Homo sapiens: one gene and its partner. The protein of the gene in region 1 purifies or fractionates together with the protein of each later gene. This does not show direct contact. Each region holds a gene or a part of one and is shown on either strand. Other genes may lie near its edges. The genes, in order: OTUD7A and OTUD5.

Region 1 (3,809 bases):
TGAAAACATCAGTTCACATTACTCTCCTTCTGTAGACTCTCCAGAGGCTCACAGTTCCCTCGAGAGCCCCCTTTTCACTCTCCCTCTCTCCTCGATCCCACTTTAGCCACCTTTCCCTCTTGCCTTTTCTCAAGTACTGCCCCCTCTGGGTCTGTCCCTGGCCTTTCCCTGTGCTGGGACAGCAACTTGGCTCCTTCCTCCACCCATTTGAGCCTTTGCTCCTATGTCTCCATTCACGCCACAGCAGATCTGCCTGCCTCACCTCTCCTCGTGGGGCTGCCACCCTCAACATCGTACACTCTGTGCCAGCCTCGTGGCTATCCTCACTTCCCACTTCCCCACAACATGTGCTCCATGAGATTTTAGGAACTTCATGTGTCCCGGCCACTGCCACATATATTCCCAGCACCTAGAATGAGTGAGTGGGTGCGTGGGTGGGTGGATGGCTGGATGGACGGATGGATGGATGGATTCCCCTGTGTTTTCCCTTGTAGCCAGAGCTGCCCTTCTCTTGAGCACTTCTCCCATGAGTTGGGGTTCTTGATCACATCTAAGCTGCCCAGAGCACATTCTCAGAGATGGCTGGTTTCTCTCTATATCCTCTCAGCACCTGGCACAGGGTGAGACCCTCTCACTAGGAAGCAGGCGCTCTCTCCTGGGCCAGGTGTGTGCAGTGGTGTCACTGACGCTCTGCTTCTCAGGAAGCTGAGATGCCTCAGGGCTGGAGAGGAGGGAAATGGCAGACCCTGGAGAAGCCAGGATGCTAATGGCCTCCCTCACCTGGAGCCCTCCATAAGGACACTGGACAGCCTGTCCCTGTCCCCTAGTCAGTCCCCCACCCAAATGTAAGACTTGAATAATGACCATTAGGTCCTCAAAGCAAACCAGCAACATTGAGAATGGGTTGCCAAGGGCACCAGAGAGGAAAAGCACTTGATTTTCACCCACTATTGTTTTGCTAAGAACAGGATGTGCTGCTTCATTCACCTAGTTGCCTTAATGGGAAGCCTCAGGAAGAAGGCTGGAGGGGAATTAACAGAACCGCTGAGTAAGGAGGCTGTTCTGCGTGCAGACAGGAGGCTCTCCCAGTGGGTCGTGGTAGTTTGCATCACCTCTGGCTTGTCTTTTCTCATGTCCTTTCTCTCCTCTGTTCTCCCTGGCCTCCTGGCTCCAGGAATGTGGGGGTTTCACGACCGGGACCTGGTGTTACGGAAAGCTCTCTATACCATGATGAGGACGGGAGCTGAGAGGGAAGCCCTGAAGCGGAGGTGGAGGTGGCAGCAGACGCAGCAGAATAAGGAGGTTGGTATCCACTGGCATGGCCAGAGCCCGGGACCCAGGCCAGATGCAGCCTCGGGCCGTGGTCGAGTCCACAGCATGGCCTCCAGGCCCCAGACAGTCTTATGAGGGGAAGGCAGAAACAGCCCCTGGGATCAGGAAAGTCTCCTGCTTTTAAGCCCACAGAGGAGGAGCCTGTTAAAATAGCAGAGTCCCGGCAGACAGCAACTATGCGTCCACTTGTGCTTCCTTAAGGCATAATCATGAAAGCTGCCTACCTTCATTCCCAAAAGCATCCTGGCTTGGATGATGAATTATATATATGACTGCCTGCTGTCAGGTGCAGCCCATGGCCCCAGCCCCTGTGTGTGAGCTCAGTCCAAAGGGATTCCCGATTGTCCCCAACCATGGTAAACATGAGGACCTTGCTCTCCTAGAAGAATCTGAACGGCCAGCCCCAGTTAGGTGCAGGCACAGGTTAATGCTCGGTCATCCCCAGCCCCTGAGAATGACCCTTGTTGGTGGGCAGATTCCCAGCAGCTCTGGAATTAGAGCTTGGGGCTTCTGAAAATATATTGTGCATAGCAAAGGTGGCCAAGAGGGTGCAGTTGGTATAGTTGGTAGCTACCTACAGATGTGCCTGGCCTGGGTCCCGGTGAGGCTGGTCCAGATTGGGAGGGTGAGGAGAGGAGGGCAGCGCAGCTGTGGCCCACCCCCCTTCTGAGCCGGCTCCCCTCTGCCAGTCAGGGCTGGTGTACACAGAGGAGGAGTGGGAGCGGGAGTGGACGGAGCTGCTGAAGCTGGCCTCCAGCGAGCCGCGCACACACTTCAGCAAGAATGGCGGCACGGGCGGGGGGTAAGTGCTGCCCCTGCTCTCCCCAGAAGTCACCTCCAGCTCCAGGCCACCCAGGGCTACACACAGCATGGGGGGATGGCACGGGGGGGAATGTGGGACTCTTGTGCTGTGGAAGACAGAAAGATTCCAGCTTTCCAGCATTAGCTTCAAGACAAGGACGCACGGGAGGACCGTGGGTGATGGCTGGCCCCGCCAGGTGCTAGTGGAAGGGTATGCAGCCCCCACATGCACTATGCAGGCAGAGGTGAGCTCACATGAGCTGCCTCCAGGCCACTTTCCTTGAACTTTATTGTGCACAACAGTTGGGGTGTGCGCCTTCAGGGCACAGCAGGCCTCTGGAGGTCACACGTGATGGTGAGCATTCCCACACATTGCCATCGCACGAACCTGGCTCTGAAGTTTGGGTTTTCTCCCCCAACTAATTAATTTGTGGCTTCAAGAAGTTGCCCTGAAAGCAGAAGCTCATTAAGCTAGCCTGGTGTTTCCCAGATGGGCTCCATGGATATTATATGTGTTCCCAGCAAAAAGACTTCACATCTGTGCATGTTTAGGAATAGCTTGTTCCTACAGAAACACCTTGGATGTTCTAGTATGGAATGAAGACCGTGGCCAGACCAGTGGGGCAGCCATAGAGCCTTGGCCGCGGCTTATTCTTCAGTTCATATTCTCTGGAACCTGAAAGCAAAGGTGTTGCTCCTAGAGAAGGTCTCAGCCAAACATGAGAAAGTGTGAGCAGTAACACCAGGGAGACCCATGGAAGGAGGATTGCATGCAGCTCCAGGCTGCCCTCAGGCTCATGGGCCCTGCAGCGGGCAACTGGGTCCTCACCCACCCACCAAGGCAGGGCCTAGTGCCTCATGGGCCAGCTCTCCCTGGAGGCCCCGGCTGGAAAAGAGGCTCCCACAGAGCTGCAGCTGCAGCAGTGGCGTCCAAGACCATGTTTGAAGATGAAATCATTAGAAACCCACATACGCTGGCACACCCTTCCTCCAGGGCTGTCTTGTCACTGTGTTTTAAGGCTATGTTATGTCCATACCAACAGTCTATCTTGGCAGGACATTTGAGGACAAGCATTCTGAAGACTCAGTCGACTGTGGAAAACTGCTCTCTTCCTCTGCACGCCTCCCGAGTCCTGCCTGTGATGGGTCTTAAGTGTTCCTCGACATCGTTTTCACAGTTGCCTCTCTCCCTCCTGCCACAGGGAGGACGCCTGATAGGTGCTGGCAGACTGGATCCAGGCCAGGTGTCTCTGCCAGGGACAGGGAGGAGTGGGGAAAGACAGCAGCAATGATGACTTTGATAGTGGGTGAAAATCAATCACAGGTGACCATCACATACACATCTCCTGAGTACCCCCATCCAGGAGGAGCTTCGCCCAAGGTCTCATGGCTAGTCAGCCCATCTGACTCCTAAGGCCACAGTCTGGTACCCTGCTGCCTGCTCCCTGGGGCCCGAGGGATTCAGATGCTAATGGGGACACAGGGGCCACTTGGTGTCTGTCCCTATCTCCCACAGAGTCTGAGTGATCAACCTTAATCTAACAAAAGGATTAGGTCCCTTTAGGAATATCCAAAATGGCCCAGACATTGTCCCATTTATGTAGGATAGCCTGGTCCCCTGCCCCTGGGAGCCATAGTTCTGGCTGCCACATCACAAAAGAGAAGGAAGAACCCGG
Region 2 (3,809 bases), on another chromosome or scaffold:
AGGTCCTGGGGACATGGAGTCTGGAGCCTCCCTTCTGAAACCAAGAGCGATTCCGAGTCTCTCCCTGACCTAGCTATGCTTGCTTCTCACCTCTAGGTCATATAATAAGTTTTGAACTGCTTTTGACAAGCTTTTTTCTTCCCAGGGACAGGAAAGGGGTTTGGGACATCGCCACTCTGGGGAAATTCTCCTCCCACATTCCTTTTCCCCTTGGCTCAGGTAAATCTTTCTGTACTTCACAGGGGCCCCAAGCCTTGTCTTGAGCTCCTTGTTCTTGGTCCCTTCCTCCCATCATTAATTCTGGCACGATAAGCCATTTGTACTCAAGGGTCAGGACCAGTTATTTCTTCTCTCTCTGGTTGGGTAGTTTCTTTCCTCCTCTAGAAGCAGGGAGCCATACATCACTGGTCCTAGGGACAGAGGAAAAACATCCTATGCAGCCATGATAATTCAAAAACACCTCCTTACTCCCCTCCCTTGCGATACATCCCTGGTCCCAGGGACAGAGAGAAAGAACATCCTATGCTGCCATGGTAACTCAAAAACACTTCCTTATGCCCCTTGCAGTCCCTCCCTTATACTTGTCCCCATAAGAACATAAGAGTAAGCCGGGCATAGTGGCGCATGCCTGTAGTCCCAGCTACTCGGGAGGCTGAGGCGGGAGGATCACTTGAGCCCTGGAGTTCAAGACCTGCTTGGCAACATAGCGAGACCTCATCTTTACTAATAAAAAAAAAAGAATATGAAAATCAAGTTTTGTGGGTTCATGAAACCTGCCCTTCCCAATGACAGGAGAGGCTTTCTGTCCCCACACTTCTTAGGACAAAGAAGGTGATCCTCTTCTCCCTGCCTCACCTGGTCCAACTTGAGAGCTTTTGGGGATGAGAAGAGGGAAGATTCCTCCTGCCACCCCAGTCTTGGTCCTAAACTGTCACTAGGGGTGGTTGTAGCCTGGAGGTCAGTTGGATCCCTTGGGAAGAGAGGCGTCGTTGAGGGGGAGTCTAGATGGCGATTCTGGGGTTCTGACTACTTGGGCTTCCTCTTTGTCCTGATTCTCTTGTATCCCTACTTCCTTTAGGAGTCTTTTTGGCACTCTGGGGTCCAGGTGCTGGGTGGGTGGTGATGTCAGGGGTTCCCAGGCATGGCTGCCTTGCTGAGAGTCTGCTCTATGAAAAGGTTGGCCTGTAAGCATCCTGAGTTTGGAGACCCCACAGAGCTCTTTGAGAAGGGGCATGTGAACTGAGGTGGTGGAAAAAGCTGGGTGTGGCACGGTAGTTGGTGCCTGGGTTCCAACTCTGGGTCTTTCAAGGCTTTGCTGGATGAACCAGGGTAGGTTCTACCTATGCTCTCTGGGCCTCAGTTTCCTCACTGGCCAGGCAAAATGCTGGTGAGGTGTTGTTTAGCTTTGGGATTTTAGGGAACTCAGTCCAAAGTTCTCTGGACCTGGAGGTGGCAAAGAATGGTGGATGTCTTTTGAGGAGGAACTGGGTTTCTCCCCTCTCTTCCTGGCTCCTCTGTTCCCTCTCAGCCATCCAAGCTTGGTGGGCAGGACAAGCAGCCTGTTTTGTGTGAGGCTCAGGGTTGATGAACAGCCATTTTTTGTGGGCAGCCATGTTGTAATGAACAAGCTCGATGGGATTTCCTGTCAGGAGGCCTGTTGGATAGTGGTGTAGAGAGGTAGAGTTGTGTGTGGAGTTTGGGCTTTGGAGCAAGGCAAGCTTTGAGCCATCATCCCTCAATTCTCTCATCACCTCCAGACCTCAGCATCTCCTCCTTACCTGCTTTATAGCTTTAGGCAAACTACTTGCCCCCTCAGCTGCCCATTTTGCAAAAGTTTGTCCATGCCCAGGTGTGTCTGACCTTGCACACCTTGGACCTTGGCCGGTTCTTCCTCTTGCCCAGAATGGGCAGTTTGCCCCAGGGTCATCTTGGTTCTTCCTAGGAGCCTTTGTCCACTCCTAGTAACCTATCTTTGATAGCAAAGGCCCTTCATTTGGCATCTAGGAACCTGCTGATTTCTTGGGCTCTTCTTACCCCAACTGGAATTGGGTAGCTAGCTGGTGGGGAAGCAGGAAGGGGTCTCTGCCCAGGCAACGTGGATTTGAGTCCTGTTTCTGCAGTAAGCTTTTCTGTGGTCTTCAGGCAGTTCTCTTTTCTGGTTCTTGGTTTCTCCCTCCATGAAATGGGTAGTGTTGAGGAGGGAGGTTGGACTCATTGCTCTGAAGCAAGTTATAGTCTCCTCCCTGCTCCCACTCCCCTCACCCTTCATGAAAGTTTTAAGTGGGACCCCTTGGCCTTTGGGGATTGTGCTAGGACATTTCAAGCAGTGTTCAGCGTCCTTGGCTGGTGCTGAGCCCTTGGGTGTGTTTCTTTTAACAACTTTAATGAGATGTAATTCATGTACCATACTATTCACCTCTTTGAAGTGTACAGTTCAGTGGCTTTTAGTATATTCACAGATTTGTGCGTCCATCACATCACTACAGTCCATTTTAGAACATTTTCATCACCTTAAAGAGAAATCCAGCACTCTTTAGCTATGATCCCCCAATTTCCTCATCCCTTTCCAGCCTCTGGCAACCACTAATCTACTTTCTGGCTTGATTGATTTGTCTGTTCTGGATGTTTCATGTAAATGGAATAATAGAATATGCAGTTGTTTGTTACTTGGCTTTTTTCACTTAGCATAATATGTTCAAGGCTTATCCATGTTGTAGCATACATCAGTGCTTCATTCCTTTCTATTACTGAATAACAGGACCTTGGGTTTTTTTGTTTTTTGGTTTTTGTTTTTGTTTTTGTTTTTTTTTTAAGGTGGAGTCTTGCTCTGCTGCCCAGGCTGGAGTGCAGTGGCGCAATCTCAGGTCGCTGCAACCTCCGGCTTCCGGGTTCAAGTGATTCTCCTGCCTCAGCCTCCCAAGTAGCTGGGGCTACAGGCATCTGCCACCACACCCGGCTAATTTTTGTATATTTAGTAGAGATGGGGTTTCACCATGTTGGCAAAGCTGGTCTCCTGAACTCCTGACCTCAGGTGATCTGCCTGCCTTGGCCTCCCAAAGTGCTGGGATTACAGGTGTGAGTCACCGCACCCTGCCAATCTTAGAGGTTTTTAATCCCCCTGCCCTCAGTGGCCTAGCCAAATGTTGGGGCCTTGCTCTTCTCCCCTTCTGCCCTGGAGGGCTTGTGTTGGTCCTTAGAGAGTAGTGTGTCTATGTTCCTCGTTGGATGGGTTGCCTGTGTGTGTTTTTTTTTGAGATGGAGTCTCACTCTGTCCCCCAGGCTGGAGTGTAGTGGCGCGATCTTGGCTCACTGCAACCTCCACCTCCCAGGTTCACACCATTCTCCTGCCTCAGCCTCCCGAGTAGCTGGAACTACAGGTGCCTGCCACCTCGTCTGGCTAATATTTTTGTATTTTTAGTAGAGACAGGGATTCACTGTGTTAGCCAGGATGATCTCGATCTCCTGACTTCGTGATCCGCCCACCTCGGCCTCCCAAAGTGCTGGGATTACAGGCGTGAGCCACCACGCCTGGCCCCCTGTGTTTTGTCCATGGAGCCAGGCTAGTGTTCCTGGGTGCTTTGCTGGAGGGGGTGGTCTTGGCACCAGGGCTGCTGGGACAGAGCTGTGAGTCACAGAATGCTAAACACCTTTTGACCATAGGCTCTGGGAAGACATCTGTCCATGAACTGCCACTGCTGCTGCCATCTTTTGCCCCCCCACCCCACCCCCACTTCAGTGGCAGCTCATCCATCCATAGGCAGGGTCAGTAGTTTCCCAGGGTGAGAAGGGAGATTCCAGGCCCCTGCTGC

Evidence for each region.
Region 2: the proteins of OTUD7A (region 1) and OTUD5 purify together in Homo sapiens (affinity purification with mass spectrometry; one large-scale study listed by BioGRID and IntAct). This does not show direct contact.

What each region holds. Positions count from the first base shown.
Region 1 is NC_000015.10:31,524,674-31,528,482, reverse strand, and holds part of OTUD7A (OTU domain-containing protein 7A), read left to right. Parts: intron 1-1,174; coding exon 1,175-1,302; intron 1,303-2,021; coding exon 2,022-2,134; intron 2,135-3,303; exon of another isoform or gene 3,304-3,383; intron 3,384-3,809. UniProt on the Homo sapiens protein: Deubiquitinase, which cleaves 'Lys-11'-linked polyubiquitin chains. Might be required for PA28-20S proteasome assembly.
Region 2 is NC_000023.11:48,951,058-48,954,866, reverse strand, and holds part of OTUD5 (OTU domain-containing protein 5), read left to right. Parts: intron 1-167; exon of another isoform or gene 168-219; intron 220-3,809. UniProt on the Homo sapiens protein: Deubiquitinating enzyme that functions as a negative regulator of the innate immune system. Has peptidase activity towards 'Lys-48'- and 'Lys-63'-linked polyubiquitin chains. Can also cleave 'Lys-11'-linked ubiquitin chains (in vitro).